2 linked regions of the Homo sapiens genome follow. The protein of the gene in region 1 interacts with the protein of each later gene in a biochemical or structural test. Each region holds a gene or a part of one and is shown on either strand. Other genes may lie near its edges. The genes, in order: AGPS and GNPAT.

Region 1 (3,923 bases):
TTTACATAAATATTTATATTACGATATATAGTTATATTAATATTTGCTACTTTTATCTTCTTTCAAATGTCACAAACAACTTTTTATTTACAAAACCCATTATCAATTTGATTTTTTAAGTCAAATCACTATATGTAATTAATACTACACATAGTTTAGGTTTTCTTTCAACGGTATGGTTTACACATAATAAAATTACTTCATTAATTTTTATTTCATTAAGAACACCCATGGTGGCTGGTTTTACTTTTTTTTTTAATTATATAGAAACTATTCAGAACTATCCAAATATGGAGTTAATGCCAAGTTTAAGGTTGTTTCTTAATTAATTGTTAATTCATCCAGAATTCTTGGCATAAAACTAGCAATTGCTTCCTTAATCACACCCGGAGAGTTAAAATTGCCAAAATAACATAAATGGAGTCTCAAAGTCTGTTAAATTAACATCTTTGCCTGCAGATTAAGCTTAATTGAGTGAAAACCTTTTACTGTTTTCTCACTTTTCAGAAAGTAGTAACGACTCAACTCCTATGATTGCTACATTTAAGAGTCATGCATCTGGCCTCAGTGTTAGCAGCCCAATTCAGAAAAAGGTGTCATACCATTTATACAAAATTTTTATAAAGAATTTCAGTCTTAAGTAAGTCAAAATTATCTCCAAATAAAAAGTTTTCTTTTTTAAAAAAGCCTTTAAGGTTTGGGGATTTTGTTTGTTTTTAAAGTGTAGGCCCTTCCTTTCCTTCTTTTAAAATAGGTGCAAAGAGCAAACTAGCTGTTTCTAAAACTATCACTGGTAGTTTTTTTCTATCCATTTTTTATAAGAATCTCAATCTGTAATACTACTTACTACATTTTTGCTGATTATAATAGGAAACTGTGTTACATAAAAGACCAAGTAATAGAAGTCTTAACCAGAGGCTAAGAATTAGATATCTATGCTATACCTGAGGCATTAAAAAACAACAACAAAGAAACAAACTGAACTGCAGGTTAGATAGAGATCAACCTAGCAATCTTTTTGAGCTCCTGGATCACAAGTAAGAGATACGCTTGGGGATTTTTTTCTTTTATTTTAAACTATCAGAGATGCTTCCTAGTATAACTAGCGCTTTAAGAGACAATTTCTAATATCTATAAAGATAGAAATAACGTATCATCAAAACATTCATTTCTGGTCCCAAATGGAACTCATCCTATATTAACAACAATTAGAAATACATATATAAACATTTATATATTGAATGTGCATGTTGTGTTCTTGGCAGAAGTTGAAATTATCTATTCTTTATACAAAAGATTCACTTATCTTTATACAATGCATGCGGACTCCATATGATACTACTCTGATATGAAATAATCCTTAAGGGTAAATGTTCACTTAACTCATCGAGATTTATATGCACAATTTCCATTAATGCTAGTAGAATTACTCACATACATCTGTGATACTAAGGTGACATGATAGCTTTGAAGAATAAATTATTGTAAAAGTGATACTGACTTTTAGGTGGGTCAAGCATTAGTATCAACTAGATAATATTATCTTTTACTTTTTCTTAAATATGTTGCCTAACAATATAATTACATTTTAAATATATTCTAGCTATTGTGGGTTTGTTTTTTTTTTTTTTTTTTTTTGAGACAGAGTCTCACTGTGTCACCCAGGCTGGAGAGTAGTGGTGTGATCTCGGCTCACAGCAACCTCTGCCTCCCCGGTTCAAGCAATTCTCCTGCCTCAGCCTCCCGAGTAGCTGGGACTACAGGTGCTCGCCAACATGCCCAGCTAATTTTTGTATTTTTTTTTTTTTTTAGTAGAGACAGGGTTTCACCATGTTGGCCAGGCTAGTCTCAAACTCCTGACTTCAGGTGATCCGCCTGCCTTGGCCTCCCAAAGTGCTGGGATTACAGGCGTGAGGCACTGCACCCAGCTGCTATTGTGGTTTTTTAAAATATTAAACTCACTTCCAAATTTACTAGCTGGACAGTTTGATCAGTGAATTTTCTGTTATTTCAATGTTAATCGTGTCATTTAACAGGATTTATTAATTATCTATATTTTAAAGCAGTGGTTACAGACAGTGCAAAAACTCCTGGGCTTTGTAGTCAGACAAATCTGGGTTCATCCCTAGCTCTACCACGTATGATTTGTGGACCGTAGTCAAAATAATGAGTCTTTGAGTCATTTGTAAAGTGGGGATACCACTCTGACGAACAGTCATGAATAGAATTTTATAAAGTGTGCTATTGACAATGTAATCAGCACTATGCCATCTAGGATTTGTTCACCCCCTTGCCAATTTGATGATTAATTGAATCAACATATAAATGCCTATTACGTGATAAGTGCAGGTGATAGAAAAATGACTAAGAAACATACCCTAAATTCGAGAAACTTTGGTTTATAGAGGACATCTTTGGATTATTTCAATATACACAATGATATATATCATTTCAATATACTAAAATTAGATAATGTCAATATAATGTATTAAGAGTTGTACCTGAAGTAGAGATTATATTAAAAATATTAACAACTAATAATATGGCATGTGCTTTGTTAACAACCAATGTGGTATAAACACCGACCAATCAGCCATACGGTTAGTGCAGGGTCTGGGGCACCTTTTGTTGTGCTAAGCATTATTTCCTCTTTTGCTTGATCATGAAGCCATGGCAGGATATATTAATGTAAAGGCTTCAATTAAAATTGAGAAATAAAAAAGGTTATATAGACAGCCAAAAAGCATGATCAGATCTGTATTTCAAAAGGATCACTTTGGTGGCTAAGTAAAGGGCAGAGAGAGGGGAGACACAGTAAAGACTAGAGAAGGTAGAACCTATAATACCACAGACAGGAGCAAGCTAGAGGGGAGCAAGTAAGTATGTTTTCAGGTATAGTAATGAGAACATGGAAGAGGGATGACAGGAAGACTTTCTTTAAACCTTCACTTTAAATTGTTATGGACTCCAATTATAAATAAGTATGGCCAAATCATAACTAATTTTACAAATGCCTAGGTCTAACATTGTTTACAACAACAATAACATATAAACGAATAACACAGTCTTATTAATTAGATGCATGGCTCTCTTTAAGACCTAGATCTTTAAATGCAGGCCAAAACACACAAGTGGTTTTTCACTTGATTTAAGTATTTCATTACTTATAGAACATATTTATCTTAAACTTTTGTCAGTAGTATAGTATTTTGAAAGTAATTTACTTAAAGAAATAAACAATTATGACTAACTTAGAAGAATGTAATTTTAAAACTCTTAATATGTTACGAACCTGACTTTAGTTAAGTTTCTATGTAACTATAACCATGCTTCCCTAAATTAAAATCTCAGCTTACTTTTAGACATGACAAAAGCCTGCCTATCTTTGCCTTTAGTATTTATTACTGAACGATCACTCTCATGATTTTAGGAATTGTTTTGAGGGTATTTAAATTCTATAAACTTAAATCCCAAAGTAAATTTCACAATATAACTACAACCCATTATCATATCTTTTTCCCAAGACCACCACCCATTCTTCTATGTTATTTAATCTACCCAATCAAATCAGTCTAGGTGTTGTCTTCAACTCCTCCTTTTATTTAGCCTTCCACATCCAGTTAGCAAACTGATTTTCTGAAAATCTATCATCCGTTCTCTATCTCCATTGCTGCTGCCATGCTCAAAGCCCTCAAACTTTGCTTCTTGAGCTGTTTCATCTCCTAGTGTCTCTCCTCCATGCATGTACCCTTCTAATCTATCCTGCACAATGCTGCCAGAATGAGCTAAGATGTAAAGTTGATTGATTTTATTCTTCAAAGAAATCCCACTGCTGACAAGACAAAATCCAAATCTATCCTGCAAAGCCCTAGCCCACCCAACCAACTTTATCTCATGTAACAACTCTAACCCCACCCTCTATT
Region 2 (3,923 bases), on another chromosome or scaffold:
TTTATATATACATATACAGGTATGTATCTATATATGTATTATGTGTGTATTTATGTGTGTCTACACTCATATGCCCACTACACTCCCGAAAATCTTTCTTGTAATTATAAATTTCAACATTAAGTCAAAGCAAAAATATTGGCCTAAAGTTATTTCTTCCTTTCTTTGCTTCAGTTGCATTTCTATTCATAACCACATACAATTTTCAGGATAACTCACACTGACTTAACTAATTAGAGGATGGATAAGGAAAGTAGAATATAGCATTTCCTAGATCATCCATTTCTATGTCTCTCTGGATTTTGAGCTCAAATGTCATTCATTTCCTTGTTCCTTGAGCACTCATGGGATCTTGTACAGTACTTACATCTTCTTCTTCTCCACTACTCCGAGCCTCACACAGGCTGCTAAGGCGTTTTTCTGCACATCAGAAGATAATACATCATAACATTGAGAGGTACCTAAAATTGGGGGTGAGGAAGAGTTAGTTGACCAGTTTCTATTCTCAACTAAAAGAAATCAGCACCCACAGAGCAGTGACTGACCTTGATCGAGAAGCTGACTTGTGAATTTTCTGACTGCAGCCAAGTACTGTTCCTCACTGAAGTGGTCCTCTTCTTCACTCAAAAGGTACTTGCAAATTATCTGATTTTAAGAGGAAGGATGAGGGGAACAGAAAGAGAAAAAGGATAGCCAAGTTCAACAGAATAGTAAATAACTTTACATTGCCCCTCTTAAGAGAAGGATATATCACAAGAGAGCAGCATAAAGACCCTCCAAGGAATGAGCCCAGAAAAACCAAAGAATTTTTAGGGCATCTCCTTTGAGTTTACATTTTACAATTAGAAAAAGATTTAAAATAATAATGACATTTATTAAAGTATAATTTCTCACTTCAAGGGGTACAAGTTAATTACCATCAGCTTCGTATCTCTTATGCTACTTGGGAAGAGAGGGGTCAGATTTTAATAACTTTGCTTTTTTTCTCTAAATACACCTAAGAAAGTACCATGCCCTAAAATACTTGATGATTTCTACTGTAGAACAGTGATTAAGGGTAGAACTAGCATTTATCAAATGCTCAGTAAGTGCTAGACTTTGTGCAAGGAGGCTGAATGAGTTATTTCACGGACCACAAGCACCAGGAAGTGGGTCCAGGTGCCCAGAGCCAGTGCATGTATTATATGAACAGAGCCGAGTCACAGCATCCTCTTCTCTCAAGCATGTGGAAGTCCTTCCTACAGTTTATGTTTCAGACTCTTTCTCTCCCGTTGAGTCCTGCCACAATTCCTGCTGGGCAACATACCATCCCATCTCTCTAACTACTCCCAAGAGCTCTGACAAACGCTTTCAGAACTTGCACTTGAACTTTTTCTTTCCAACATAAACATCTGGTAATCTGTAACTGACTTTATGTATCACTCAAGTCTTGCCTTTACTGAGTGCCTGATATATATCAAACCTCGAGGTTACATATTGACTGACATGAAGGCCTCATTAAGACATGAGACACAGTATGACAGATGATGCGTGGGTGTAACTGTGGTCCTGTGAATACTGTGACCATGGCATCACTAAGCTGTTGTCCTCTTGGGTCTGTAATGAACCAAGCTTCCTCCTGAATGCGGGGAGCAAGGTCTCACTGGTGAGGTGAAATCACTGATCGTATTAGTCACTCTCTCTCCTTCTTCCATTTGCCTGGGGAAGATACCTGCCCTTCAGACTGGAAATAAGCACAGGGTGAGAATGTCTTATTATATTTGATATGGGGGGCATGAAGGAGAACTTGCCAAATTTACATACCTGATAGCTTTCCACAAAAGGTTTAAAGAGTCCTACTAAAAATTCTAACACAGTATTTCCTTTCTCTGTAACTAGGATGTCTTTCGTAGTCACTTGTATGGCTTCACTTTTACAAAGCAGGTAACAGCCTTCTTCAAAGTCCTAGAAGGGAAGAGGAAGCCATAATGTTCATCTAGGTTAATGGGTATAGTGCCCATCTGAATACATGTACCCCCTCATCTAGGTTAATGGATACACTGCCTATCTGAATATATGCAGCCACATGCCCTCAGACAACAGAATACCAGCTATTTCCCCAACCTCCAGAACAATTCTGGTTGTGAGATAGTAGCCAGAGAAGCATCTGCTCTACATTCAAAATGTTTTCAAACACAACATTTCTGAGCCTTACAAATCACAACCTGGGTGATGGATTTTCTTTTACTTTGCAGAACCACTCCTTAATTTAAATAGGAAATACATACAGCAAGTCCTAAAAATACTTAGAATTATGCTATGGTTAAAAAATTTCTGGCTGGGCGCGGTGGCTCACGCCTGTAATCCCAGCACTTTGAGAGGCTGAGGCGGGCGGATCATGAAGTCAGGAGATCGAGACCATCCTGGCTAACACAGTGAAACCCCGTCTCTACTAAAAATATAAAAAATTAGCCGGGCGTAGTGGTGGGCGCCTGTAGTCCCTGCTACTTGGGAGGCTGAGGCAGGAGAATGGAGTGAACCCGGGAGGCAGAGCTTGCAGTGAGCTGAGATTGCGCCACTGCACTCTAGCCTGAGCGACAGAGCCAGACTCCACCTCAAAAAAAAAAAAAAAAAAAAAGTTTCCAACACTCCTGTTCCACTCCCTACAGAATCAAACCTCTTATCCTTAAAGCACACAAACACCTAACATGCCTCTCATCTACTGTCACTTCCCACTTCAACCCAGCAGCAGTCCAGCTCTGCGAGCCTGATGACCCCTCAGCTGTCTAGACCAGGCAGGACCAGCACTCACTACTCTCAAAGTAAAAGGCACTTGCCTGGGTGACTCATTCTAACAACTTGCTAACAGGAAAATGTGTGCTGATTTTGTTGTGTTTGGTTTCTTTTTTTTTGAGATGGAGTCTTCCTCTTGTCACCAGGCTGGAGTGCAGTGGCACAATCTTGGCTCACAGCAACCTCCACCTCCCGGGTTCAAGTGATTCTCCTGCCTCAGCCTCAGCCTCCTGAGTAGCTGGGACTACAGGCATGCGCCACCACGCCCAGCTAATTTTTGTATTTTTAGTACAGACGGGGTTTCACCATGTTGGCCAGGATGGTCTCGATCTCTTGACCTCGTGATCCGCCTGCCTCGGCCTCCCAAAGTGCTGGGATTACAGGCATGAGCCACTGCGCCCGGCTGTGTGCTGATTTTTAAACGTTTACTAAAATAAAGTTAGTTTAGTTGTAATGGCCACACTGATAGTTCAAAGAATGACTCTCCTCTCACCATATAATCCCTAAGTTATTAATTAAACTTGATCAAGAATCAAACTAGAGTCTGCTGAACTGTGAGCGCCCCAGTTTCTCTTGAAGTCTGCCCCACTTTGCCTTGAAGAAAGGGATGGCACACTGCCTGAGACACATCTGTGAATTCACCCCTAACATTTCTAGAACTCACACTGCAAACATACTTGCTCTTTGTTGTAAGCACTTTACCTTTAGTGTGTTTCCTGGAAGGAAGATGAACTCATCTGCAAAAACATCACGTAGGAAGCGAAAGCAACTGTAGACATCCTCTGGAAATAAATGCATCATGTAAAATTACAACATTGCCCTTTAAACTTTAAGGGAGTACCAGGAAGTCCTTACTATCACAAAATGTATTTCAAAGGCATATTTTATTCATGTAACAGGGACAAGAATTAAGTCCCCTGAGGGAAGCTAAATTAAACCCAAATCTTACCCACAGAGCAAACTACGGTCTAGCATAGTTTGTTTTTTGTTTTTTGAGATGGAGTCTCGCTCTGTCACCCAGGCTGGAGTGCAATGGTGCAATCTTGGCTCACTGCAACCTCCGCCTCCTGGGGTCAAGCGATTCTCCAGCCTCAGCCTCCCAAGTAGCTGGGATTACAGGCACTCGCCGCCATGCCCAGCTAATTTTTGTA

The links.
Region 2: the proteins of AGPS (region 1) and GNPAT form a complex in vitro, tested with the Homo sapiens proteins (one study listed by BioGRID).

What each region holds. Positions count from the first base shown.
Region 1 is NC_000002.12:177,493,633-177,497,555, reverse strand, and holds part of AGPS (alkyldihydroxyacetonephosphate synthase, peroxisomal precursor), read right to left. Parts: intron 1-3,923. UniProt on the Homo sapiens protein: Catalyzes the exchange of the acyl chain in acyl-dihydroxyacetonephosphate (acyl-DHAP) for a long chain fatty alcohol, yielding the first ether linked intermediate, i.e. alkyl-dihydroxyacetonephosphate (alkyl-DHAP), in the pathway of ether lipid biosynthesis.
Region 2 is NC_000001.11:231,271,943-231,275,865, reverse strand, and holds part of GNPAT (dihydroxyacetone phosphate acyltransferase), read right to left. Parts: intron 3,555-3,923; coding exon 3,475-3,554; intron 1,945-3,474; coding exon 1,804-1,944; intron 646-1,803; coding exon 546-645; intron 462-545; coding exon 368-461; intron 1-367. UniProt on the Homo sapiens protein: Dihydroxyacetonephosphate acyltransferase catalyzing the first step in the biosynthesis of plasmalogens, a subset of phospholipids that differ from other glycerolipids by having an alkyl chain attached through a vinyl ether linkage at the sn-1 position of the glycerol backbone, and which unique physical properties have an impact on various aspects of cell signaling and membrane biology.